Homo sapiens: one gene and its partners. The protein of the gene in region 2 interacts with the protein of the main gene of each other region in a biochemical or structural test. Each region holds a gene or a part of one and is shown on either strand. Other genes may lie near its edges. The genes, in order: NFIC, LHX3, NFIA and RLIM.

Evidence for each region.
Region 1: the proteins of LHX3 (region 2) and NFIC form a complex in vitro, tested with the Homo sapiens proteins (one study listed by BioGRID).
Region 3: the proteins of LHX3 (region 2) and NFIA form a complex in vitro, tested with the Homo sapiens proteins (one study listed by BioGRID).
Region 4: the proteins of LHX3 (region 2) and RLIM form a complex in vitro, tested with the Homo sapiens proteins (2 studies listed by BioGRID).

What each region holds. Positions count from the first base shown.
Region 1 is NC_000019.10:3,460,580-3,467,604, reverse strand, and holds part of NFIC (nuclear factor 1 C-type), read right to left. Parts: intron 4,854-7,025; coding exon 4,836-4,853; 3' UTR 1-4,835.
Region 2 is NC_000009.12:136,202,121-136,209,018, forward strand, and holds the start of LHX3 (LIM/homeobox protein Lhx3), read right to left. Parts: upstream 3,009-6,898; 5' UTR 2,893-3,008; coding exon 2,814-2,892; intron 1,070-2,813; exon of another isoform or gene 920-1,069; coding exon of another isoform or gene 826-919; intron 1-825. Other genes in the region: QSOX2 (sulfhydryl oxidase 2 precursor), read right to left, coding at 6,608-6,898. UniProt on the Homo sapiens protein: Transcription factor.
Region 3 is NC_000001.11:61,078,372-61,085,576, forward strand, and holds the start of NFIA (nuclear factor 1 A-type), read left to right. Parts: upstream 1-4,189; 5' UTR 4,190-4,389; coding exon of another isoform or gene 4,390-4,420; coding exon 4,421-4,447; intron 4,448-7,205.
Region 4 is NC_000023.11:74,590,625-74,597,649, forward strand, and holds part of RLIM (E3 ubiquitin-protein ligase RLIM), read right to left. Parts: intron 5,377-7,025; 5' UTR 5,354-5,376; coding exon 5,185-5,353; intron 3,766-5,184; coding exon 3,682-3,765; intron 2,438-3,681; coding exon 816-2,437; 3' UTR 1-815. UniProt on the Homo sapiens protein: E3 ubiquitin-protein ligase.

The DNA of each region.
Region 1 (7,025 bases), on a different chromosome or scaffold from region 2:
GTGCCTGGAATGCTGCTGTCTCTCAAGGTCCTGGGGCAGGGAAGGTGGAATTGTCTGCTGCCTGGGGACCTGCAGGGGGACCCAGGTCTGGCCCCTAAGCGGCTCTCCCAACCGAGTCCCCTTTGGCATTCCTTTGGGATCTGATTGTCCAGCCCAGGGTGGGGCCCTGGGGTCAGAACCTGGGTTCCAGACCTGGGCATGAAGGACTCCAGATCCTCCTCTCCCCAGTCAAATAGGGCTGGGTCTTCCTACTCCTCCATGCCCCATCTCCACCCGGGTCATTGTCAGGTGCCCCCACGGAATGGGGACAATTTGCATATATTTGGGAGGCCTCCCTATTCTTTCCCACAGCATGGGCAGACCCCAGAATGAGACTGGGGTGGGGGGGGGGGCCTGGCATAGGTGTGGTGTCCATAGCAGGGGTGGGTGATGGGGGCTTCCAGAGGGGGGTGGAACAAGATTTGAGAAGATGTCAGTTTCATACATGTTAAAAAAACAAAAACAAAAAACCAACACTCCCTCCTCCACCCAGGGATGACGGCACCCCCTTTTGTGAACCCAAACTGCAGAGATGGGCACGGAATCCTGCTTCCTGGTGTTTTTGTCTTACTCTGTCTGCAGCAAGGCGCCTGGGAATTTTGCCCTACAGGGACCCTGTAGCTTTTCCAAGAAACAGGGAGGCGGGGAGAACTAAACCATCCACAACATGCTGCCTGGTATGGGCTTTTGCCTGCTGTACTCAGCCAAGGTGCCAAGTGAGCCAAGGAGGCAAGCTCGGGGTGAGAAGGGTGGCGTCCAGCCCAGGACTCTGGGCCCCCGGGTGTGGGCTGTGCAGGGACGCGATGGTCCCAATAGTGATGGGGCCACCCACTCCCTTTGCCTCCGGTTGCTCCTAGTTCCTTGGCAAGACAGATTTGCTCAGGAGTGGGGCAGAAAAAAAAAAAAAGCTAGAAATCAGCTACATGAATGCTGTGCACAGCCAGCCCGGGCTCTCTGGCCAATGCATATTACTTAAGGGCAATGTCGTGGCCAGCTGTGGTGGTCTGGGCTCTCCCTCTGTATCGCCTGGGGAGGCTGCTGAGGTGACTTTTTGGAAGAAAACACGGGATGAGTGTATGATGGTGGCTGTGGAGACCACCCAAAATCCCGGGGTTGGGGGCAATAGTGAATGAATGGGACCATCTGCGTGGGTCCCTACACGAGATGCTTGGAGGGGCTGGAGGTGGTGAGGGCTGCAGGAATGGCCTAAGGTTGGAGAATCCCAGCCCTGGGTCCTCCCTGCCTGGCTGCCCCACTAACCATCTGGCTATTGTCTTAGCTTTGGTCAAGTAAAAAGCAAAGGAAGCTGGAGTTAAAAACAAAAAGAAAAGAAAAAAAAAAAGAACAAAAGAAAATAAAATCAAGGACAAGACAACAGCATGCTCAGCCACCGGACCACAGCCTGTGACTCGGTGCCACCTGGCTGTCCCTGTGCCCTGCCGGACCCTCGGCTGGGCCTCCAATGGCTGAGCCAGGCCCATGGGTACAGACAGACAGACAGATATTGCATATATCAGGTTTTGTTTTTGTTTCATACAGGATACCCTTCATATTCACAGCTGGAAGACAGAGACAGGGGATGGGGGACAAAGGAGAAGGTGGGAGAGAATGCCACCTGGGGTGGTCTCTGGATAGGGGAAAAGAGGTCCTTTGGCAAGAAGGGTGGGGATGCACGGGGCAGGGGAGAGGGGGTGCCTCTGAGGTGGGTGTGGAACAGCATTTGACCCTGAGCCAGGGGTATGCCAGCCTGCATGAAAAGTGGGGAGCGGGGAGTCTGGCTGCGGGTGGAGTGGCCACCCCATGGTTGGAGGACAGCCTGCAGTGGGTCGGTGAATGGTGTCTGGGGGCCGGCCCGTGGCCTAGGGACCAATCAGAGAGGAGAGCCCTTTCCCAGGGCCAAGATGGGCCCCGGAGGTCTGTCCTCTGGGCAAGGGATTCAGAAATGACCCCTCTGGGTACCCAAGAGCAGGGTTGGGGGTGGTAGAGGCTGAGCACCAGGGGGCACCCCTGAATACAGCAGGAGGGGAGACAGGACCAAGGACAGCCAGGGGCTGGGTAGACCTGGGGGCAATTGTTTTCAGTGGCTTGATTTTTAGCGTGGTTTTTCTTCCTTTTTTTTTTTTTTTTTTTTTTTTAGATTCTCACTTTCTTATTTTTTATTTTATTTTTTTTACAAATAGAAATACATCCCTTTTCAATTTTTATTTTTTATTTCATGTCACTGTTTTGTCTTTTTTTTTTTAAACTACACGAGCAGAACATGCAGCTATGTGTGTGCGCTGATATTGTTTAAAGGTAATACTTATTCTCGGAAGGCAAGGCACATCTTGTGGTAGAAAATTTCGTGCAAATTAGGAAACATGGAATTTTTTTAAAGGTTTTTCTTGTATCTTTTTTTTTTTTTTTTTTTTTTTAAAGAGGAAGTGGGGGGTGGAGGGGGCGAGGAACAGGGAGATAGAGCCAGGGATAGTCTGCCATGCATGTGTGTCAGCGCCGCCAGCTGACCTCGGGAGCCAGGTCGCAGGAGTCCTTGACTAAGCACCATGCAAAGTTAGGTAAAGAGTTGGTTCTCGTCGCGCCCTGACCCCTCTGGAGCCCGGCTGGCCTCCCTCCCCCACTCCACGACCCCCACCCTGGCTGAGAAGCTTCCGGACACCCCAATGGCACAACCCGACCACCCCCTCCCCCGCCCGCCCTCCCGGAGAGCGGCCCACGCTTTGATCCCCAAGGGCCACCGGGGGAGCGGGCCCCGAGGACAGACGGACGGAGGGACCAAGGGCTCGAGGCCAGAGGATGGCGAACCTCTCTTGGGGGTGATGGGGGAGGGTCCTGGGTCTTTCTCTTTAGGAGCGAGCGGGTTCGCCAAGCTCCTGAGGCTAGTTTGGGAGGAGAGTCTGGTTTTCGGGGGCAGGGGGGTGAGGCTAGGAGCAGGTGAGACCCGGAGACCTGCCCTGGCTTTGGCCTGGGTCGGGGGAGGGGGCAGTGGTGGGGGGAGTTTTTCCCTAGGCATGGAGGTCAGTTGGGGCTGGGCTGGGTGGGCCGGGGAGGGGTCCTTGTGTTTGAGCTCGGTGGCCCTAAAACACCTAACACCCCCTCCCAGGCCTCCCCTAAAGATGGCGATCCTGGGGTGGGGGTGGAGGTGTGGATAGGGCCAGGGAGCCGGGGTGGGGGGGCACCTGGCGTCCCCAGCTTAGTGTTTTTGGAGCGGCTCAACGGAAAAACGCTTAGCAGATGGGAGGCCCCCTACACGGCTGCGGGGGGCCCCAAGGTGCGACGCCGAACCCCCCGAAAACCCTCCCCGTTCCGAGCGGGGACCGCTGGCGTCGGCCTCCTCTCTCCTCTGGGGGCCCAGCCGTGATGCACGTCCCGCAGCTGGGCCCCGCGTCGGGGTAGGCGATGAAAGTGCAAACGGCGGTCCCCCTTCGCTGGGAGGCACCAGGGAGGGGGGTCGCTCCAGAATGTAAGGCACTGGCAGCGGAGGCGTGGGGGGCGCACCGGCTTCCCCAGAGCCCACCCCCGCGCCCCGGCAGGGCAGGACGCTTGCGAAGTGACGCCCAGCTCTGCCCCTCGGGCCACGCAGGGGCCCCATCTCTCTAGCTCTGGGGGGGCACGGCGATGAGGGTTGACTGGAGGGGCTGGTGGAGAGGCTGGAGGGGAGGGGGAGGAGGCCCGCGGCCATTCCGTGTCCCAGCTGGACAAAGGGGGGGGCGGGTGGTGGTAATCAGGCACTTAAACCACTCGCTCTCACCTCCCACCGCCAGGGGCTGACGGGGGCGCTCCAGACGGGCACCCCCAACTCGGGGAGCTCTGGGTGTCCGGGCTCCCCCATCCCCTTCCTCGGAAAGTGCATTTCTTACAGTGTGTGCAATGTGGGTCCCTCCCTTTGGGGGTGTGAGCCGGGCGAGGTGGGGGGGCCTCCTATGCCGGGGGTGGGGGGTGGAGGGGCCGGGGCCAATTGCATAGAGACTTCTCCTCCCAAACGGGCGGGCGCGAGGGCTGAAAGAGTCCCCAGCGAGACAGCGAGTCGGCCGGCGCTTTGGGAGGGGCTTGTGGGGAGGCCCCGCGGCAGGCAGGGCCCCCTCGAGGGGCAGCAGGTGCCTGGGCCTCACTTCCTCCCCTGGCCAGGGCTCGCAAGCGCCACGCACCCCCGCGACACCACTCGCCTGCCCCACCCTGCCCGCCTCTGCGGTCTCCGCTGCCCGGCCGGGGTCCGCTGTGTCTCCCTTTCCCCCCAGTGGCTGCGTCCTCGGTGGGGGCTGAGGGGCCGGTCCGTGTCCGGCAGAGGCGCGGGGGCCCGGGGAGAGGTGGCCTTGCTGGGTGTCGCGCCTGTCGGCCCTGGGCACAGGCTCCAGGCTGTGCTCACCTGGTCTCCGGACAGAGCCAGGGCCTCCGGGGCGCGGGCGGGCGGCCGGCGTCTGTCCTTCCCGAGCAGCAGGCGGAGAGGAGATGAATAACTTAGGAAGACGCCCTGTCCCGGGTCTCCCGTGGGGGTGGCGGGGCCTGGCCCTCCAGTCCTGCGGCCTTGGCGTCCCGAGAGTTGGAAACGTTGCGTCTTTACCTTTTGTCTTCTTGCTTGGGTGGGTTTTTATTTCTTCTTCTTCTTCTTCTGCCTTTGTTTTTTCTTTTCCTCCTGAGTGTGTGCGTCTATGTGTTTTGTCTTTTTGGCCGGGCTGGGAGTCGGCAGGGGTGTTCTTGTTCACTCTAATTTTCCACCGAAAACGTGGGCCGGGGGCCGGCTGTGCTGCCCCCTGGGATTCCTGGGACGATGGAGAAGGGGCGAGGGAAGAAGACCTTTGCTATCCCAGATACCAGGACTGAGTGGCCCAGTGGCGACAGAAAGAGGGAGAGAGAAAAAGGGAGAGAAGTCGAGGGGTCAGACTCTGCTGCAGACATGGTTTACCTCTTCCCACGCTCACCCCCCACCTCCTGCAACCCTGTGACCTCAGTTTCCCCATCCCAGGCTCTAACAACCTGCTGGGTGACCCATGGCAAGTGACTTTGTCTCTGAGGGAGGCTTCCAGACACAGTACAGGATGCCCAGTGAAACTGGAGTTCTGGTTAACACAGAATTCTTTTAGTATAAGTCTAGCCCACGCAACATTGGGGATATACTTACACACCACACACAAAAGATCCATTTATCTGGAACTGTATTTTATATTTTATTTATTATTTTATTTTTTGAGATGGAGTTTCGCTCTTGTTGCCCAGGCTGGAGTGCAATGGCGTGATATTGGCTCACTACAACCTCTGCCTCCTGGGTTCAAGCAATTCTCCTACCTCAGCCTCCCGAGTAGCTGGGATTACAGGCGTCCACCGCCACACCTGGATAATTTTTGTATTTTTAGTAGAGATGGGGTTTCACCATGTTGGCCAGGCTGGTCTCAAACGCCTGACCTCAAGTGATCCACCTTCCTCGGCCTCCCAAAGTGCTGGAATTACAGGTGTGAGCCAGCACTCCCAGTCTGGAACTCAATCTTACTTTATTATATTATATTATTTATTTATTTATTGAGACAGAGTCTCGCTCTGTTGCCAGGCTGGAGTGCAGTGGCATGATCTCGGCTCATTGCAACCTCTGCCTCCCAGGTTCAAGTGATTCTCCTGCCTCAGCCTCCCGAGTAGCTGGGATTACAGGCGCATGCCACCACACTCAGCTAATTTTTATATTTTTAGTAGAGACAGGGTTTCACCATGTTGGCCAGGATGGTCTCACTCTCTTGACCTCGTGATCCGCCCGCCTCGGCCTCCCAAAGTGCTGGGATTACAGGCGTGAGCCACTCTGCCTGGCCTTTATTTTATATTTTAAAAATTATTTTCTTCTCTATTTATTATTTATTTATGAGACAGAGTCTTGCTCTGTTGCCCAGGCTGGAATGCAGTGGTGTGATCTTGGCTCTCTACAACCTCCGCTTCCTGGGTTCAAGTGATCCTTGTGCCTTAGCCTCCCAAGTAGCTGGGATTACAGGCCCGCCCCACCACACCCAGCTAATTTTTGTATTCTTAGTAGAGACCGGGTTTCGCCATGTTGGCCGGGCTGGTCTTGAATTCCTGGCCTCAAGTGATCCGCCCACCTTGGCCTCCCAAAGTGCTGGGATTACAGGCGTGAGCCACTGTGGCCAGCCAATTTATTATTTTATTTTGAGACAGGGTCTTGCTCCGTTGCCCAGGCTGGAGTGCAGTGGTGCCATCATAGCTCACTGCAGCCTCCATCTCCTGGGCTCAAGTGATCCTCCCACCTCAGCCTCCCGAGTAGCTGGGACCACAGGTATGTTCCACCACATCTGACTAGTTTTTTTTTTTTTTTTGTAGAGGTGGGGTTTCGCCATGTAGACCAGGCTGGCCTTGAACTCCTTCCTCCCAAAGTGCTAGGATTACAGACATGAGCCACCACATCAGCTGCCTTGTTCACTTTATAAAGAGGTTTTTTGTTGATTTTTTGAGACAGCGTCACGCTCTTGTCACCAGGCTGGAGTGCAGTGGCACGATCTTGGCTCACTGCAACCTCTGCCTCCCGGGTTCAAGTGATTTTCTTGCCTCAGCCTCCCGAGTAGCTAGGATTACACGCATGCGCCATCACACCCAGCTAATTTTTGTATTTTTGGTAGAAACGGGGTTTCTCCATGTTGGCCAGGCTGGTCTCAAACTCCTGACCTCAGCTTATTCGTTTGCTTTGGCCTCCCAAAGTGCTGGGATTATAGGCATGAGCCACTGCACATGGCCTTGAGAATGTTTTTAAAAAGTAAACAAGAGGCTGGGCTCGGTGGCTCATGCCTGTAATCCCAGTACTTTGGGAGACCAAGGTGGGTGGATCACCTGAGGTCAGGGGTTCGAGACCAGCCTGGCCAACATGGTGAAACCCTGTCTCTACTAAAAATACAAAAATTAGCCAGGCGTGGTGGCACGTGCCTGTAATCCCAGCTACTCGGGAGGCTGAGGCAGCAGAATCGTCTGAATCCAGGGGGCGGAGGTTGTAGTCAGCCAAG
Region 2 (6,898 bases):
AGCGCGGGCGCGCAGTCCTCCTTCCTCCCTCCCTCTCTCCGCCCCCCAGCCCCCGCGGCCAACCCCTCCCAGGAACCGTCGAAAAATAAATAAATAAGTAGGGAACCGCGAGCCCCCACAGCCTGGATGTAACCCCCTTCCCGCCGGCCGGTCCCTCTCACTCCCCACTGGCTCCGGGGCCTCCTTCCCCATCCTGCGGCTCCAGCTGGCCCGGGAGTCGAGGAGAACTGCCCAGGTTCCCTAAGAACCAAAGTGCTGGGAGCTAGAGTGGTGCCACCAGGAAGCTGGGGGGCCTGGAGAAGAGAGGCTTTTTCCTACAGACGGGCCCTGAGCGGGGATAAACCGAGCGGGTGTCTGTGGGCGCAGACGCTGAAACCTGACTTCGGGGAGACCGACGGTCGGAGTTCAGCTCGACCTTGGCCCCTGCATCTGACTCTGTTCCGCTGGAACGTGGAAAGAGTCCGGCTGGGGCGGCCTTCTTGGGGACCCTCCTGTCCCGTGGTCACTGCCCCGCCACTGCTCCCTGCGCCTCCTCCAGCCCAGGGAGCTGGCTCCGGGCTGCAGAGGTCTCCTAAGCCCACCCTGGACCCCCGAGAGCTCCCTGGCCGGAGCAGCGCAGTGCCACAACCTCACTCACTCCCTGACAACCCAGGCCAGGGGCCCTGCAACAAATACAGGCTGAGGCGCCCAGGCGCGGACGTTCCGGGGTCCTCGCGCCCACTCCCGCCCAGATCCTCTAGCTCCTGCCAGCCTCCGCGGCCAGGCCCGGAAAGGCCTGAGGATCTCCTGGTCTCCCCGGTGCAGCCACTCGGCCCGGGCACCCACCTCGGCGCAGGTCCGCCCTCCGCGCCAGCAGTGCTAGCAGCAGGTCGCCTCCCGCCGACTCCCGGGCCGGGCCCAGCTCCCCGCGCGCCTCCATGGGTCCCGCCGCCCGGCGTCGCCACTCTCCAGTCCCGAACTTTCCCGGGCCCAGCGACGCCACCCCGCAATAGCCCCGAACCGGCGTCCAAGCGACTCCGGGTGCTGCTGGGCGCTGCGCCCGCGGGCCGCCCTGGGGCCCGGAGCCTCTGGCCGAGCGGAGGGCGGAGCGGCCGGGGGGCGGGGCCGCGGGGCGGGGCGGGGCCGGGGGTCGCGGAGACCAGCCCGGGCCACTGCGGACTCTGAGCGCCTTTGCGCCGGGACCTGCGGTGCCCAGAGGCCGCCCCGCGTGCCCGGCCCGAGGGCGGGCACCGGTAAGGGAGGGCCCAGGTCAGGGCTTCCCGCCAGCGTTCGTCCCGGCCCCGCAGCTTCCTGCGCCGGAGCGGCCCAGAGGCAGAGGCCTGAGCTGGAGCACACGCCAGGAGGGCTAAGGTTCCCGGGAGAGGGGTCGAGAAGGCAGCAGGGTCCTCCCGCCGCTGAGGTTTGGCCTCGGGAGCAGCAGATGGTCGGCGGGAGCTCAACCCGAAACGCAGAAGGGGTGAGTGTGGCGCCGAGGGCTGCGTACCGGAACCGCAAGGTGCCGGACCGATCCCAGATGCTAACAGGCTTCTGGGCTCCACCCCTGGAACTGCGGCCCCGGACGGCTCAGGGAGGAAGGGCAATCCTTGAGAGAGAACAGGCTCTGTGTCCTGGACACGCAGCCAAGACCTCGGGTCGTGAGGGGCCGAGCTGGGGAAGCCCCAGGGCACACCTTCCATTTCCAGCCCCCAGCACTCCGGCTCCATTGGAACACGGTCCCTTACCTGATATTTCAGCCTCTTGCCCCAGTCCACACAGGTGAGCTCTCCAGAACCCACCTGTCCTTGCAGGCAGAGGGACGCACCCACCCCTGCCCAGAGGGCCCTGGGCCAGCACCAGCCCTGGGCAGCCACCCGGGGAAGAACACAGCAGTGGGTGGCCCTCGGCAGCACAGGACTTGGCAAAGGCAGGGGTGCCCTGGCAGTGCGCAGAAACACACAGGAAGGGTTGGGGGACCAGGGGCTGATGCCATCCTGCAGGTCCCTCTCCCTGTGGGTCTCACAGCAATACTCTGTCCACTCTGCCTATGGCTTCTGGACTGTGAGCTTTAAGGGCCCAGGCCCAGAAGGATGGGCACAAGAAACCACAGTCCCTCCCTCCTAGCTCCCAGCAGGTCCGATGTGTCCGTTTTGAGCAGTGGCCCATGCAGCCAGCTTTCTGCCCCTTCACTTTGCACAGCACTTGTTACCCAAGAAGGGCCAGGGCAAGGACACGCGGGTGCAAAGCCGAGTGTGTGCGGGCTGTGCTGGGTGCAGGTGGCTGAGTGTCAGCTGCTGCCGAAGCGATCAGGGGTCGTGTGTGGCAGGACTGGGGAAGGGGCGGCGGCAGGTTAAGGAGGCGGCCCACCCTGCTGGCATCTGGCCAGCCCTCCAACAATGCCTCCATTATTTCCCAGCGTCCGTGGTGATGGAATGGCCCTTGGGGAGGGTGGTTCAGGCGGGAGACACAGGCTTGGGTCCCCTGCTGTGGGGTCCAGAGACCTGGGCCGGGCTGTGTGCAAGAGCTGACGGGCACTGGTCACCGGGGGAACCTAGCACCCCTTGGTCGGCCCCATCGCCCCCCAGCTGTGCCTGCGATGCCCCCTTTTTTTCTAGGGGCCTCCACTCCAACCGCTGTCCCGCACTCTTGCAGGCCAGCGTCAGGCCCTCCCCGCCACCCTGGGATCTGGAAACTCACTCTCTGCAGTTTCCATCTCTGTGTCCCGCCTGCAGAGCGGCGGGACTTTCTTTGCCTGGCCGCTGGCCCTGCACGCACCCCCTTCCTCGCGCCTCTGCCGCCCTTGCCGTTTCTGTCCTCAGTGTCCTGCTGGGGCTTACCCCGAGTCCCGCCCAAGGTGCAGACGGCGGCGGCCCCGGGCCTCGCTCGGTCGCGCTCGAGCCCCGTTTCCAGCAGCATCGCGGCCACCAGGCCGAGTGGCGCGAGACGCGCTCCTCCTAGGTCAGCGTCCCCTGGAGGGTTCGGGGCTCCCAAGTCCCGCCGCGTCGTGCGGGGCAGGGAGCCCGGGAGCCACTGGGCCTGGCGCTGTCCGCGGTGCTGAAGGAGGCGCCCGCTGCCCGCCCCGCCCGCGCGCCCGCCCACCTCCCGGGGCCCCTCTCGTCGCCCCGGTCCCCACCCCCGCCTCTGCCCCGTGTCGGGCGCGCCTCCCTCCCTGGCTGGGTTGGGCCGCACTCAAGGCAGCCCCCGCCCTCACCCCTCTGAGACCCAGGGTGGCCGTGCCCGCTCCTCCCTAAGCTCCAGGCCCTGCTGAGGCGCTGGGATTCGCCGAGTTTCGCAGCAAGCGGGTCGTCCAGCCGCAGGGCAGGAGGACACTGACCCTACCCTTCTGGCGTGCAGCCTCTGGAAGGCAGTGCCCAGGCCGTGCCCCGGGGCAGCCCCATGCGTGATCAACTCCAGCCCAGGGCTCACTGGGGCACTCTCCTGCAGGTGTTTTGCTGGTCAGGGAACTTTCCACTCTTAACCTCCTTGAACTCAACCCCCAACTTCTGGGAGGAGCTCAGCCCGCACCCCTCCGGGCTGCCAGGAGGAGAGGCACCTGCAGTCCCCTGTAACAAAAGCACTGCTGAGGACTCAAGACCTTGGGCATAGGCAGGGCCTGAAGGAATCGCCCAGTACACACCCAGGCTGGTGTCTGCTCGGTGCCTGACGAGTGACTGAGTTACTGCCAGCCTCTGCACAGCCTGGCCAGGGAGGTGCCAACCGGCTTCCTCCACAGCCACAGGCAAGACTGTTGACCACTGCCCTGCCCCCACTGGCACAGCAAAAGTAGGGGAGGGGCAGAAGACAACACGGGGTCAAGGGCACCCCACAGAACACCACAAACAGCCTTAGCAGGACACTCACACCCAGGAAGCAGAGGGATGGCCACTCAAGCAAGCTGGGGGTCCTCTGAGGTGCCCTCAGGCTGGGCTGCCGCGCGTGCTCTTTGAAGTGTGTAGCTGACATGCATCTCAGCTGCCCTTTAACCTGTGTAAAATCAAGGGTCTTGTCCTGTGAGTCTCGTCCAGATCAGCTCCAGGGAGATGATCTATCACTGCTTTCCATCTTCTACTTTCCATCCGACCCTTGGGCTGTGTCCCAAAAGCCAATGATTCGATAGGAGAAACTCTAGGATTTCAGATGTCCAGTACGTGAACAAAAGAGGGGTCCATTCTGCACCCACCGCCTCTACCACAACTCCCACTGGTAGAGCTGGTTCACATTTCAAAAGAATCACCATTTTTTCAAATGTCAGATTTCTTTATTAAAATGTGCACATTATAGTTTACTTAAATACAAAATGTTCACTTTCCTTGCAGGTAAGAAATTTCACTGACATTTCCATGTCAATTAGCTTCTTTTTAATAAAAATCCTTCCACTGAAAATAAATAAGCATTTAAATTACTGAACTATTATATTCATTAGTCTCAATACCTCTTAAAATACTTAAAACTTTAGAAAATAGACTCTAAACATTGCCTAAAGGTGGCATCCAGCTCTGAGCAGGCCACACAAGGTGTGTCTGAGTATGGCCATATGACTCCTGGGGCCACCTCCACGACGGCCCAGCCCCACCGACGCTCTGCTGAAAATCCTGCCCCTCAGCAGGACGCAAGCTTGTTCCCCAAATAGTGGTGACCTCAAACTGCAATATGATGAAACCTGCAGCCAACACTGCCCTCCACAAGGGTTTCTGGAAAGGCTGAAGCTGGAGACGGTAAACCACAACACCGTCCCAGGTCACTCCAGGTCACCCCAGCTAAAGACATTCAACACCAGCCAAAAGGCTAAAGTTTAGTTTGAAGGGTTCAAAGGCAAATACACTGAAACCCACGTGTAAACCTGCCTGGTTTTCAAACTGGAAGAGAAACACTTTGGTGTCTTCAATAACCCAGGCCTGCACTGGATGAAGCAATGAAGGCAAGGTCACGGCTGCTAAAGCACAGAGGGGTTAAAAAGTGTGAAACCAGAAGCAACTCTCGAGTGAGACACGAAGCAGCAGGCTGACGCACCAGACACCGCTCCCACCAGACACCTCTCCCGCCAGCTGCAGGGCCCTGGGCAGCGTTCTCAGCCCAGCCATTCTGTGACAGTTGTTGAAAGAATCAGCTGTTGCCTTTTTTTCTCAAGCGACAACAATCACATCAATATTACATGGTCTTATGAATACATCCATGTCATCAACTTGTTAGTAAACACATGATTATACAACATAAAGTAGGCAAAGCGGAAAAAATATCTACAACCGTCAAAGTCTCTCTCTCTCTCATACACACACACACACACACACACACACACACACACACACGGGCACACAAATACATCTGAGCCTATTTTAGCCAAATCAAATTTTGCCTGTGAGACACACCAATAGCCACAAAGAATCTCAATATAAATGTTCCCAGAAATAGTGTATTTGTTTGTTTACATCTTCAGAGGCAACGGACCACTAAATGTTTTGGGTTTAAAAACAATGTTTAAAATTATCAAATGGTAAAAGACATCATGACAAAAGCTTGGGAGATCAGTGCCTGTGTGGAGACCCTTCCCAAAACAGCTTCAGGCAAAGGAAGCCTGGCCCCCTCCGTGGGCCGAGTGAGATGCTTGTGTGTGCAGCAGGTGCCTCTGTGGTGCTGGGTGAAGAGCAGACGACAGGGGGGGCTTTAGAAGTCTCCCTGGGGCCTACGCTCCCAAGGGCAGACTGCTCTCCTCCCCATCCCCCAACAGAGGGGCCTGTGCTCTAAGCACTGCCCGCTGAGCCCAGAGCTGCCCTCCAGGCACCCGCCGTCCCAACGGCCCCCATTTACTTGTCTCTCTCTTGTCACCAGATAGACAGACAAAGGCGCTGCCTCTGAGGGTTAAATGAGCCCCCATCCTTCCAACCCCCAGGTCCACAGCCCAAGGCCTCTGGGGGTTATTTTCTGAAACGCAGCACAGCCACAGAATTCCTTGGCTCCTCCCCTGTTGAAATCCCCACGTCTGGTGTCGAACACCCGGAGGAACAAGGAGAGCCCTCAGGAACCTGCCCTAGGGAAGCAGCTACAAACACAGGATAGTCCCTGGAGCACTTGCTTGGAGGGGCTGCAGAGGCCGACTGCGCTTCCGGCTCTGTCTGTCCCCGCCCGGCTAAAGGAAAACACTTGGCAGCCTGGAGCAGGGGGCGTGGGGGGAGCGGGGGGAGGGGGAGCGAGGGGAGTGGGGGGGAGCCAGGAGCCGCGGGGGGGATGGGCGAGGTTCTCCAAATACAAAAACAAGGCCCTGCAGGATGGGGCGGAGTGGAGGAAACGAGATGAAAGTGTGTGGGGAAGACTATCTGGCCTGGACTCTGCACCCTCTTTTCACATCTAGAAGAGTAAAAATACAGAAGTCTTTTTGCTGTAAGACCTGCAAAAGGAGCATGAACAGACTTGAGTACGCCAGGAATGCAAATATCCCCACAAAATTACCCCGTGTTCTTCCCTTGTTAGAAGAGCGTTTGTAAAACCAGGACTTTGAAGCCAAAAGGTGCCATCCGATGTGAAACCAGGCCCGCATGTTTATAAAATCCCTGATCATAAATATTAAAGCTGCAGGTGGCACGGGGCAGGGCTGCCTCCAAGGGAGCTTCCGCCGTGGCTGGCAGCACCCGGGCACTCACACGGCCGGGTGGTGGTGCTTGACCTTCCACCGCCTGGACCTCACCCGGAAGAAGAAGTACATCACCATGAGGAACAGGGATGAAGCCACGTACAGCACGACACAGAGACTCATGTCCAGGCTGGAGAAGTCAACCCCGAGGAAGGGTGCGGCCCCGCCCACCTCCTTGTGGGCCCCGGGCCCATCCAGACTCTGGAGTTTCCCGTCCAAGCTGTGATGCAAGCTCTCTGGAAGGGCAGGCCTGGGGCCCAGTGCACCAGGTGGACGGACGCTCTGGGTGTCTCGGTC
Region 3 (7,205 bases), on a different chromosome or scaffold from region 2:
ACTTTGCATTAGCTATTATTTTTATGCTCAGGGAAGCTGGTAACTTGTGGAATGTGAAGTTCAACTTTAAGAAACGTGTGGCTTAAATCTTGCCTGAATTGTGGGACTGTAGTGAGCTTTGGGAAGTAATATATTGCGTATTCAGCATTACAAAACTTCTTACTCTGATTATCTTAGAAGCTTTGGCATTTCAAGTACTTTGAAATTAATAGGTAAACCTCTCTTCTTGAACTCTAAACAACAGTTTTAAAGGAGAGAATGTTTCACATGTGGACTAGCAGCTGTCTTACACACTTGAAAGAAATTAGGGGAGTGTTTTTTCTTGGCTATTCTTGAATTCTGCTTTTTAAGTATATGGTCAGTAGGAAATAGGACGTTAAGACTGGCCAAGTTCACGTTTCTCCTTGTTACCACAACAACCCCCGTGGAGAGTGTATGGAAGATCGCTGACTTGCTAACTGTTAGTTGGAGTCTGGCCTCTTGGACAAGTGCTTGATACAAATCCAGTGGAAACCAACTGCAGTAGCTTGTCTTGGAGACAGTAACTGGCAGCCTCTGACTAAAATATCTCCATCTCCTCCTCTCTGAGCAGCGTAGACACCCAATTCTGTTGGGAAGTGAATGGAAAATAATATGGGCTCTTTCCCTTCTTTGGATTAAATTCCCATCGAGCTATTTCCCAAGGCTTTAGGCCTTCCAGTCAAATCTGGCTTGGAAATTTGATGTAAGAATTCACTTGGACACTCACTTCAGCAACATGATTCAATTTAGGATTATATGCACATAAGAAAAATCTGCACAGAAGTGACCAGCAGGTCAAAAACCAGAGAAGAAAAAATGTTGAAAAATGCCAGTTAATAAAGTTAGTTTTGGTAAGAACTACAGAGTTATGGTGTTGTCGCTTATGAATCCCAGTCCTATCTTCACTGCTTTGGGTATTAAAATCTAAATCATATTAATAAGATCTCCCTATTAAGTAACCTCCAAAATGAGAGCTATTTGAGATGTACATATAAGTGAAACCTTATTGACGTAATTTATATATCTAAGAGGATTTCACTAAAGCTGGCAAGGTAACGTTTCTGCAAATAAAACACAGTAAATGCAAGGCTGGGCTCTGTGCCAGGAAGAATATGGATAGCAGAGAGCATGACAGGAGCCTCCTTTGCGCAGAGACAATCCCATTTCAAGGCAGCCTCCTACCACTTGGAAAATAAATGATTGGAGAGGTTATTTCCAATAAGGGGTTTATCCTTCCTAACAATGGGTCATTTATATGATTGCAGTGAACTAGTTTCCATACTTCACCTGCGTTTCCTCCACTGCTCTCTCTACTATCCTTTCTTTCTTCCCTCCTCCTCCATCCCTGCTCTCTCTCAAGTGCCTTAGTATCTTTGTGAACTCTGGACAAGGATTTACTTTTGCAACTTGGGAAGAGGGGAGAGGGTTGGAAATGTTTTTTACCCCCAGTCTGCCCTTTGAGGAACATCTGTTTCTTTGTGCGTGTGTTTAAATTTATGCCTGTTGGAGAGAAAGTTACCAGAAGCCTTTCTGTAACTGTAACTCTTCTACTGTATTTTTCTCAGTCTTGTTTCCAAAGGCTGTAGTTGGAACTGTGCTTTGTAGTGTTCCCCCGCCTCCCCCCCTCCCTCCGCGGGGGAGGGAGCGGGAGCTGGCGGAGATAGGAGAGAAAGCAGGAGCGGATGTGAAGGGCTTTGGTGCTGAACTTGGATCCAGCCCTTGCCTAGAGGGCGCAAACAATCGTCCCATATCCAAAAGTCTTACGAAGGGCGCCAAAAGTTACTTAAGATAATATTGCTAACCGCAGAAAGCTGGAAATCGCGGGGCACATCCACTGCTGCAACAAAAGAAGTTTTTAAAGTAGAAATATCAGCATTAAATTACTTCCCCCATTAAAAAAAAAAAACAGGGCGACATGCCAGTCCTTTTTAAAAAAAATCTTTTTTTTCCTTGAGACTCAAAAGTAAGAATCTTTGCCGTTTTGAAAATAGGCAGATGTGAAGTGTATCTTTTAATACACCAAAAGAAAGATTTTAATCTGCTCTGGAAGAGAGCTTCCCGAGTACACACTCTGAACAATAACTTTTCACTGTGCCTCAGTTACATGTTGGGACCGTCAGCCAGAAACTTCTATCGAGGAAACTTGGAGCGCATTGAAGTTATAGATCCCAGCAAAGGTTCTCGTGGCCAGGGATGTTGTCTCTGTAACACAGCTTGGCTTTTAGGACATTCCTCCCCTACTAAAATCTGAGAGGAACCAAGGAAAAGCAGTGGGTTAAGTTTGGGAAAATGGACTCTCTCATTAAAGGCTGAAATCATTATTTCTCCTCACTCCTTAGTAAATAATCTTGAGAGATTTCCAAGGATGTTCAGGAGGGAGGGTGGGAGAGAGAATGGTTCTTGAGCATTCGGGAATTATTTTGGCAATAAAGTAACTAAAGTACAAGCATAAAATAACTTTAGACAGATGCAGAATTATTTCAGAGGTTCTCTTTTGCTCTTTCTCCAGTACAGTATTTCCTGCCCCTTGCTTTGAAAAGAAGTCTGAATGAGAGTGGCCTTAACACATCACTCACCCTCACTTGTTAACACATCACTTACCCTCACTTTCCTACAGGAATGTCCCCTCTTTAGAGACTCTCTGGTTATGTCACCTCCACCGAAGGGCAGATTCCCCTGTGTGCCAGTGTCTTTCAACATGATACCTACCTCTTTCCTTTTGGAATTTTGAGAAGGGTTGTCAAATGCAGCATTTTGCAAACCATCATGAGGAAGAGAAGTAAAATAAGGGATGGGGGCTTAGAAGAGGCAGGTAGGCTTTCCCCCCTCCGAGAGAGGAGAGCCTAGAGAGAAAATATGAGGTTAAAAAAAAAAAACTGGAAAAGCAGGCTTACTGGCAACTTGCCAAACCCTAAAAACCACCCCCCTCTTTTCTGCCAAAACAATACTTTAGCAAACCTAAAATAATTGCAGGAAGCTCTTTTCCATTTTAAGAACTATTACCTGGGGGAGGGAAAAAAGGGATTCTTAAAAGGCACCCTTCCAGAGGTGTCCCAGAAACTGGGACGGTAATGATAGCCTATGTCCAGTTCTGGGCACGCGTTTGTGGATCAGAATATCTCCCTTCCCTAAGGGGACATCCCTTTCACATATTTTTTTCCTCCTAAAAAGTAAAAGATGTCACAGCTAAACCACTGTTGTTTCTGAACGTGATAGAACTTTTTCTATGGCGTCTGTGTTCAAACCCACTAGTTTCACAGTCCTGGGAGGGATAACGCTCATTAATCTCCGCCTTCTTTTCTCCAGACCCCCGCCCCCCAAATCCGGTGAATCTTCTGTGGGCACTGATTCCTCACCACCCCCGCTTCTGAATGCCACAGGACCGAAGCTGCACAAAGTTTGCAGGATTGTGTGCATAATTACCTCTGCCGACGAATCTATTCCCACAGAAAGCTTCGCTGGAGAGATTACAATGCTTTGAGCCTTACCGCATTTCAGTGGGGGAAAAAAAGTTACCTAGGAGGTCTGATTTTTCAAAGAAATTTGCATACATGCAAATGTGCCGCCCGGCCTCCTCCTCGGTTCTCTACGTGCCCACGCGGTGGCCCGGGGGGTGCGGGGCAACCTGGCAAAGTTGCCCAAGTCCTCCACCGAGGTCCGCGGAGGTCTGCAGCGGGGGTGGGGGGATGGGGACGAGGAAAAGTAGTTTTGTTTGCTTAAGCACATCCTGTGGCAGCCTATAGCTGCCCGGGAGTACAGACTGTAACTGCTCCTCACTGCGTTACCCAGTAATGCGCTGATCGGGGGAGGGGGCGGGGGGGCCGGGGAGCGAGCGGGAGAGCGAGCAAGCGAGCGAGCAAGGAGCGAGCCACGGAGAGAGCCGGGGAGCGAGCGAGCCAGCCTGCGAGCGCGAGCGGCCGCGGAGGCTCGGGACCCGGCTGGCCGCGCGGCGCCGCAGCCGCCCCCTCCCCCACACCCCCTCCCCCCCGCGGCGGCGGCGCGAGCGGGCGGCGGCTGTGCGGTGCGGTGCAGAGCGGAGGCGGAGGCGGGCGCGCGGGCAGCTCGCGGGCACCCGGCCGGGCCGGCGCGGGAGCGGGAAAGGGTGCGCTATGCCTTTAACACCCGCGTACAGTAGGCATGTATAGTGGAGTGTAGGGAAACTCTAGGCGGGGTTAAAGTTCAGCTCATGGAGCGGCAATAGCGCTGGCTGGCTGGCTGCAGTTGAGCCGACTTGGAAATGTGAACGCAAGAAGCAGGCTTGATTTTTTTTTCTCCCCCCTTCTCTCTCTCTCTCTCTCTCTCTCTTCCTCTCTCCCTCTTTCTCCTCTCTCACCCACACTCACGCACACCTCCAAACCGCACACCCAGACGCACACGCATACCCCAGCGCCCGGCAGTTATGTATTCTCCGCTCTGTCTCACCCAGGTAAGCCGCGGCGTGGATGCGGAGGGCTTGGGGGCCGGGGCGCCGGGGGCAGGGCTGGGGCTGGGTGGGGGGCACCGGGGCCGTCGCTCCGGCCGGGCCCAGGGCGTGCGTCTCGGTGTGTGTCTGTGTCTGCGCGTGTTTCTGTGTGTGTGCGCGCGTGTGCCCGCGGGTGGGGGGGGGGATCCCGCTTAAAGAAAGTAACTTTGTTTCCATGCGGGTGCATTCCTCTTGCACGGCCATTTGTGTGGGCACATGGCTAATGGCGCCCTCTTATTAATGCGTTAATTAATATCGGGGCGACGGACTGCGGAACAGCAGTGTTTTCGGACACCCCGCACGTGTTTCGGCGGGGTTGCAGTCCATGACACGCAGAAATCTGGCTCAGCGTTTCTGCTGCCGGGAGCAGGGATTCCGTAGTGCCGCAGCGCCCGGGGAGGGGGCCGCCGACGGAGCCCACCGCTCACCCCGCACGCTCGGGCCGGCTGCAGTCCTCGGGTGCGGGGAGACCTCGGGTGCCTGCGCCCAACGGCCCGCTCCCCGCAGCCTGCGCTGCCGCAGCCCCCCGCCGTCTTCCCGAACTCTTACTTTTGTTTATTGTTTGTCAGCCTTCGGGGTCCGGCCGCGGAAAGGACGCGGGCTCCCGTCCCGGCCCCGGCCCGGACAGCGCCCCTCGGACGCGGGCAGGCTGCGGCTAGCCCTCGGCTGAGCGGGGCTACGTGGACGCGCGTTCCCCCGCGCCGGCCGGGTGGAGCCTGCGTCCTCGCCGCGCGCCGGTGGCCCGTTGGCTCTCCCGGAGTGAAAGTTTCGGGGCCGAGACGAGCCCACGTTGTGCAGGGCGCCGAACGCCGGAGGCCGCGGGCCGCGGGCCGGGTAGCGCCGGGCAGAGTTGGGCTCCTAGCCGGGAGCCGGAGCGGCGGCCCGGGCCGGACACGGCTCCCCCCGCCGCCGCCGCCGCCACCACCACCACCGCCACCGCGCGACTCCGGCCGCTCCGCGCGCAGGACGGGGGCAACTTTTCCCCTCCGACTCAACTCAGAGCATGGGGCTCTTGCGCCCCACCGCCTCTCCTTTCCGTGCCCCCCTGTCCATTCCTCCCTTGTCTACCCACCCCCAGGCAAAATATTGCTACTTCGAGACTTCAAATCCGGTCCCCTTTGAATATGTTATTTGTTTTCCTTGACTAAAAGGCTTGAAGTCAAAGTGGTTTTGCGCTATTTTTTTTTTAAGCGTGAGATTTCATACTGCTTTGGTACATTAGGATCTGACCATTAATCACCTACATGAAGTTATATGCTTCACATAAAATGTTTATTCACCTCTCCCTTAAAAAACCTACCACTTCTTGCCTTCATTTAGTAGGAGATAACGGTTTAACCGGAATAGTTTCTGGAAGGCTAAAAAGTATCAGTAGTTTTCGCTCTCCTCTCTAGATTCTGGATTTATTTCCCACATGACATCCCTTCTTATTGCAATATCTAACAGTAATAATACCGGGTATTTGATCTCAGAAGACTCTTAAACGCATCTTTTATGTTGAAATGGTCTGTTTGGGATTTAGGCCTAGCATTAATAATGGATAGCAGTTACTTTTAGTTACTGTAAAAGTTTTTTTTTTTTTTCCTAACAAACTTCCAAAGTTCCTATTTTAGTAACTTGTGGAAGTATGGAATGAAACTTTTCCAACCACTTCTGGCAAGGTTCACAATTGCATATGGATAAGATGCAAAGTGTAAGATAATTTGAATGAATTACGGACTATAGTGAAAATGCTGAGATTCGAAGGCTGAAGTTCTAGCTGGCAGAAGTTTGCAACACACAGAACTTGTAGATAATATCAGCGAGCTGCAATAAAGGGAAAGGACCCTAACAGATACATTAGTGTCTTCTCAATTGAGCTCTGAAAAGATAAATTTATATTTGGGAATGGTGCATATATGAGGGCACCTGTATATCCATGCAGGCCTAGGGCACAGTCAGGTATTTAACAAAGTTGGCCTCTGTTGGTTCATGAGGTATTATGACATTAAGAGAGTTTTTTTTTTTCTTTTTTTTTCGGCTTACATATTCAGCAGCGTTGATTGATGCATTCACTAGGCCTTCTTCTGGAAACACCACTAAGAGAAATGCTTATTTAGTGTAACAGTTTGTAAAGAAAATGTACAATAAATAGTGAATGAGGGCTCATATTTTATGGGTTCTGCTTTTAAAAATTTATTTACAATTTATTTAACTTGCTGGGATATTTATAATGTTTTAGAGCCAGTTTTAGGAAGAAGAACTTCGGTAGTTTATTGCTCATTAAAAAAAATCAGTAAGCACAGTGATTTCTATCACTATACTCTAAATGAAACTCCATTTAACTTGTAGGCAATTTAAAAAAAAACTTTACCAAGAAAAACCTAGACATCTTATTTTAATCAAATATGGGCATATAATCAAATCAGGTACTGTCCATATAATGATAACCCAGCAGAAATTTGTAGGTGAACTTTTAAAAAAAGTAGTTTCCAGAAATATCAGCATTCAGTGGTTCTTAAACTTGGCTCACTTTCAAACAGATCAATGTTTAAGATGCTGATTCAAAGTAATACCACTTTTGAAACAGGTTTTCAGGTTTGTTTTTATTGGTGGCCTATAACTTTCTCACTGAGTACATATGTAAAACGTTCTTTTTTTCCTCTTGAATGTTATGAAATAGTACCTAGCTTATAGCGATATGTTCAGCAACATGAATTATAAGGGCACACTACTTTTTTTT
Region 4 (7,025 bases), on a different chromosome or scaffold from region 2:
GTTTGTTACTATGTTGGCTCACAAAAAGCAGTTTTCTCAGTTCTAAGCATGGTACTTTACAATTTTTAATGCATTCATACAACAGTGCATTGGAAAAGTACTGAGCCTCTACAAAATAGCTTTACATTTTTAAACAAATGAATGTGATTTTTTTTCACTTACACAAGCATAGGCTTTTTAATATTTCCACAAGATAAATATCTCAATTAAACTATAAGCTCACTCTACAGTGTGCCACAGTGATGGGCTTAGGAGACAGTTATACACTTAGAAGATCCTAACCTTAGTGTTATTTACACTGACATGTCCAGTATCACCAAGTCTGAAAGGTGAACAAACAATACTCAGAATGTGGCTGAATTTGTGTTAACTAATAACTGGGAATGATATAGCTTTAATCACTTATGAAACACATACTGTAACTTAGTCTAAACTGGTAATTTCCTTTGCTCCTCTCTTATGGTGTGGGAAAATTTAAAGATCAACATGAAAAAGGAGCCATTGCTAAGGCAGATCTTTTAAGATAACAAAGGAAAAATTGACAAGTGTATATGATAAATTATCAGTAACAGTGATGCTACCAATTTAACTGGTACGGAAATCAGATTTTTAGGTCCTATAACGTGGCTTTTAAAATATTTCCTTTTATTCTGGAACAAAAACTGGAGAAAGGACAATGATTCCTTCAGAAAGCAATGACTCAATTCAGGTTGTTACTTTACATTTAAGTACCACTCAAAAAGTGGACATAAAAGCAAGTGATTCCTGTTTGCCCATCACTATATCAGCTACATAGCTGAGAGTTCAGATCTTAATTACACAACACTTTCTCTGTTACCAGAAGCTAAGACTGCTCTGCGACAAATAGGACAGGTAGAATTCTCAGATAACCAGCGATCGATGCAGTGGACATGGTACTCATGGGAACAAGGTAGTTTACGAAGTTTGTTGCCTTCTGTATATTCTGTAATGCAAACACTACAGGTTTTTAATGCATCATTTTCACCAAAACTTCTCATTGCCAAGTTGTCAATCTGTTCTTTGGTGAGTCCTCTAGGTTGGTCATCATCATCCTCATTTAAGAGGAAAAACTGAGCCAGGCTAAGGAAGGGCAAAGAGCCACTTTCATCAAATGTGACTGGGGCCCTATGTCGACCCTCTCGCCTGGCACCTGATGAGCCTGATGATGAGCTTCCTTCATTACTGCCTTCAAATAAATCTGAGCTAGTTTCTGAACTTTCACCACCGGAACTGGAACTAGGACTGGAACTGGAACTTGAACTGGAACTGGAACTCGAACTGGAACTGGAACTCGAACTGGAACCAGAACTACTACCACCACCAGAACCTCCTCTTCCACTCCGTGACTCTGCCCTTTCCATATTTCGATTTGAGACTGAGCCAGTAGGCTCTGAGTCGCTATCACTGTACATAAAATAGCTTAACTCACCAAAACCTGTCATTATCTGCCTTAACATGGTCTGAATTGCAACAGATGTAGTCTCACTTAAACCAGTATTTAAGATTCTACGAATGGGAATTCTGATGGTACTGACATAGGTTCTCACACCTGCCCGCTCAGAACGTGAAAATGTACGCCTAAAACCTCCTCGTTCACTTTCATAGGTGACAGTGTTGTTTGGTGTCTGAGACCTAGACCGAGTTCTGCTGGCTATGCTATCTCTCTGCCGATATTCTCCAGGACGAACTCTTCTTACTTGAAGATCAAGGACTATGGTTGGAGGTCTCTGTCCTGATCCTGTAGATTCACCACTGGCAGCTGTGTCTGAAGAACCTGCTCCTTGAGAAGCATTTCTTGTTCCAGAAGCTGCAAAAAGACCTCTACTTAGCAACTCAGGCCCAGATATTTGCTGCCTCAATGTCACATGGTGCCGGGTTCTAGAACTTCCCTCCGTCTCATTTACCAAAGGATGTTCAAAAGTCTGAGATGAGATACTATGATGAGATCTTCGTGGAATTTCACTCATTGGATGCAGAGGTGACCTACTTCTTTCAGCTCTTGCTCTGGTTCTCCGATGGTCTGGGCTCCTGCTTCTTGCCCTCCTCTGACCTCTGGTAGGTGGGACCTCTGTTAACGCTTCAGTTGAATTTCGTTCTGATCTAGATGGCCTTGCAGATGTTGATTCAGATCGTGGGTTTTCCACTTGCCTTTGGCTGTTGTTTTCCACATTTTCTCCACTAGAACGTCTTGCAGATGGCTCATTTTCATTCTCTGAATTTTGGCTCCCATTATTACGGTTAACATTTATCTCTAAACTGAATCTGAAATCACCACTGTTTGGATTAGTCCGACTCACTGCTCTCCAAGATTGGTTTCCTCTTTGCCCACTTCTTGTTGTATTTCCAGTTTGTCTGACAGAGTTAAGCCAGTCTATTATAGAGTCACCATTAGACACATCATCTGAAGAGTCTCCTCCTGTTCAAAACAAAGGAGGGGGAGAGGGAGAAAAAGGAACTACTAAAATGAGGACAATCATATAAGTGCTCTGAAACTCTGCATTAAATAACTTAAAAATTCGGAACACATTTCATAATTACAGATTTTTACAAACTATACTGCATAAATTTATAAGGTAAGAAAATTCTAATTCCATTTGAAAAGAGCAAGCTACACTAGAGAAATTTAGAGAATTATTTGATTTTTAAAGGGAATCTGGAGGAAGTCTATTTTCAGTATTTTATCATATACAGAGCCAAGCATACCACTGTGGGATGGTCAGAAGACGTTTTTTCAGTCCTCTGCCAAAATACTAATGTAATCAAACTAGGTAAGGAAACAGTGTTTAACGAACAGTCACATTTAGTTCAAGCTACATTTCTGTCAAATTTTTATTAGTCTACATACTGTGCCTTTGATAACATTTGAGGTTGTTTTAAAATACAGGACTATTTATTGTAGCCATAAGAAAAATACAAACAAGATTTATAGGTTTAAAAGCATTTGAATATTTCTTAATGTTACCAAGGTTTTCAATGGACATGAAGTTAAAGATCAGATCAAATAAGTAGTCTGAACCTTGCATAGCACATATAATGGCATGTTCAAGAACCAAATTATTATCGTAGCCTCTCAGGTTGCACAATCAAAATCCCTACTTGACACTGGGAGGGAAACACCAGACCTGAGGTTAGAGCAGGATTTCTCAACAGTGGTACTACTGACATTTTAAGCCAGTTAATTCTGTGTCATGGGGGCTGTGTTGTGCATTATGGCATGTCAGGATGTTTGGCAGCATTCCTGCCCTCTACACAAATGTCTCCAGACGTTGCTAATGTCCCACATGGGGCAAAATTATATCTCATTAGGAACCACTGGGTTTAGACATTTCTTTTTGCTGGTGAAGAAGTCACATGTTTATAAAGAAGGAATTAAGTAGGAATAAATTTCAATGGAGGTGAAAAACAAACAAACAAACAAAATCACATTTAAATGGGCCATTTCTCACTGTGTTCCAATTAACATAAACATCTCAAAGGTGAGGTAGAAAAAAAATGCTGACATTCTAAGTATCAAGAAAATGTCAGTTTTCTTTTTATGAGCAGTTACTTAGCACCAAATTAATTTGTGCCAAATCTGGATAATCTTTGGCTGACATTTACTATTACAAAGTTCCTATCATCCCATCGTCTATCCACCTCCCCACCAAAACCAAAACATACCTCTATTTTCATCTGAGTTTTGCGGTGGTGGGCCTTCTTTAATTTGCTGTAGTCGTCTCAGCAACTCTTCCTCAGTACTTTCACCTGAAATTTAACACCACAGGGCAAAGATGACATTAGGGGTATGACAATCAAATACTTTATCAGTGACTCACAGTAATCTGACACAAGATGATTAGAAAAAAAATCATATTTTTAAAAGAGAAAACTTTTTCAAACCAAAAAGAAAAACCAAGGAGTAGGTAGGTCCTGGGAAAAATTCACTTCTTTGGAAACATATTAAAAGCAATTTACAAAGTTCTTTTGCATATAACATCTAACTTTGGCTCACGCCTGTACTCCCAGCACTTTGGGAGGCCGAGGCGGGTGGATCACCGGAGGTCAGGAGTTCGAGACCAGCCTGGCCAACATGATGAAACCCCATCTCTACTAAAAATACAAAAATTAGCCAGACATGGTGGCAGGTGCCTGTAATCCCAGCTGCTTAGGAGACTGAGGCAGGAGAATCGCTTGAGCCCAGGAGGCAGAGGTTGCAGTGAGCAGAGACTGCACCACTGCACTCCAGCCTGGGCGAAAGTGCAAGACTCTGCTTAAAAAAAAAAAAAAAAAAAAAAAGGCAAAGGCAATTCTAAGCTGGGCGCACAGTGGTACCACATCTGTAGTGCCAGCTCGTTGGGAGACTCAGGCGGAAGAATCCCTTGAGTCCAGCCTGGGCAACATGAGACCCTGTCTCAAAAATAAATAAGTAAGTAATTTTTAAGAATTGCAGCTTTGAGAGGAGGATATTGTTATCTGCATTTTAAAATTAAGAAACAGACTGAGCGACAGACTGGCTTGCCAGGAGCCACACCAAACAGCAGGGCCAGAACTCCACCTAAAGCATTCTGATTCAAGCCTGGTATTGTTGGCTAAAAACACACTCCCTCTCTTAAAAGTCATGCTAAAACCTTACCTTTTAAAATCTAAGCAATTACTCAAAGGTAAGTAGAATTAAACAGAAATGAAGAGGAAGACAGATACTGACTTTTAACTAGGATCAAATGGGACTTAGTGGGGTAAAAGATAATTAAGCACAAACTTCTAATTGCTATGTTACCCAAGGCTAGCTCTGGAGGATTACAACTGGGACATATTCAGAAAATCAGAGATAACAGAATAAGTCTTTCCTAAAAACTAAGTTCCCATTAGCTATTCCACACTCGGATTCTTATCTAGTAAGTTAGATAAAGCTAACTAAGAAAAAAAAGATTTAGCTCCATTCTTTTCAATTCAGTTCGCTAAAAATTCATAATTCATAAGTTAAAAATCTCTCTGATATAGTGTAATTCCAAACATCAGTAAATATAATCAGGTAATAAATACAGCAATAAATGTCATTCCATATCCCCTATGTTAAATAATATTTCATAAGGGCTAAAGAAATGGATTTTTAAAACAGGTTCAAGCATTTTTTTTTAAACCAGCAACTTACACTTATAAATCCTTAAATATATGTAAGCATACCTGGGGTGCCTAGCAAATTGTTATCTCTCATAAGCCTATAATCTTCTTCACTCAGGTTATTTACAAATTGATAGAAAGCTTCTTCTCGATCCAATCGGTCCATCTGACTTCTGCGCTGTGCTGCAGACTGATCACCACTTCCTTTGTCATTGGAATCTGAGTTTTCCATATTGATGAACAAGTGGAAAATACCTGAAAAGAGAAAAGAGACTAATCTTGAAAATAAAGGTCACTATGTATTCTATACAAGTTTTAATTATGTGAAAATCCAGAATGTAGGTCTAGAGATGGATTTTCAGACCTCAAATGAAATTTCCTAACAAAAACTCCTGAAAAGCACTGTTATATTAAGAGTAGGTCAAGGGTTGGCAAACTACAGCCCTTGAACCAGACAGGGTTGGCGAACTAAAGCCCTTGGGCCAAATCCAGCCATACTGTGGTATTTTTTGTTTTTTGAGATGGAGTCTCGCTCTCTCAACCAGGCTAGAGTGTAGTGGTGCGATCTCAGCTCACTGCAACCTCCACCTCCTGGGTTCAAGTGATTCTCTGCCTCAGCCTCCCGAAGTAGCTGGGACGACAGGCACCTGCCACCACGCCCAGCTAATTTTTGTATTTTTAGTAGAGACAGGGTTTCACCATGTTGGCCCAATCTGGTCTCAACCTCCTGAGCTCAAGTGACCTGCCCTCCTCAGCCTCCCAAAGTGCTGGGATTACAGGCATGAGCCACCGCACCCAGCCTCGTGCTGCATATTTTTATTCTCCTTGCAACCTAAGAATGGTTTTTAGAGACTATCTTGTGACATATGAAAATGCAATGAAATTCACATTTTAGTGTTCATAAAGTTTTATTGGAACGCAGCCATACACATTCATTTACATGTTATCTATGGCTGCTTCTGTGCTATAATGGCAGAGTTGAGCAGTTGTGACAGACTGTATGTGGCACTCCCATTGCTTTGGACTGCTGCTCTGTGCACTCTTAAGTTGCAGTGATGTAGCTATAATGACAGCATTTCAAGTGCCTTCACACTGGACATTAAAAAAAACTGAGTATACACTCATCATCTCAAACAAAGAGAAAAGTGGACTCTGAATGTCACGCTTAAAGGTGCAGCAGAGGATGGGTTTTTCAAAAATCAGATTAGATGGCAAAGAATGCATGATTATGCAAAAAATACTATATACTAAATACAATATATACTGACACTATTAAACACTAGTGACAATATTCCCAATTCACAGGAAAACTACAGTTCAAAAAGTTAGAAAATTTAAAGTGAAATCTCATCACAAAATATTTCTTCACAAAAATAAAAATGAGGCTTCAATCAAAGTAAATTTCCCAGGGGCTCATTTATTGGCTAAACGAGGAAAGCTGTTTATTGATGGTGAGTTAGTGAAATTATGTTTGAGTGCAGAAGCTGAAGAAATGTGTCCAGAGAAAATAAACATAATATTGGACTTTTGGTAAGTATAGTGGTCCAAAAAGCTGGGAATATTGAAAAGCAATGTCACTAATCAACTGAAAAATAAGGTAAATGATGGAGTGGTTTTCTCTTTGGCTCTTGATTTGTTGACAAATGTAACTGATACTACTTAAGTTATTGTTTATTCAAAGAGCCAAGTGTTGATTATTCAAGGAGTTTGAACTGCAGAAGTAGCCCCTATGTGTAGTCTACATGAAATAATCATAGGTGAGAATATTTTCAAAGTTGAGAAAACTAATTCAGCAAAACCTGAAGCAGAATCTCATAATAAGATATGTTACTACTGGAATGGTAAAAATATATATGGAATGGAAAAAGACCTAGTTGGACAAATTTACAAAGTTTATGAAAATG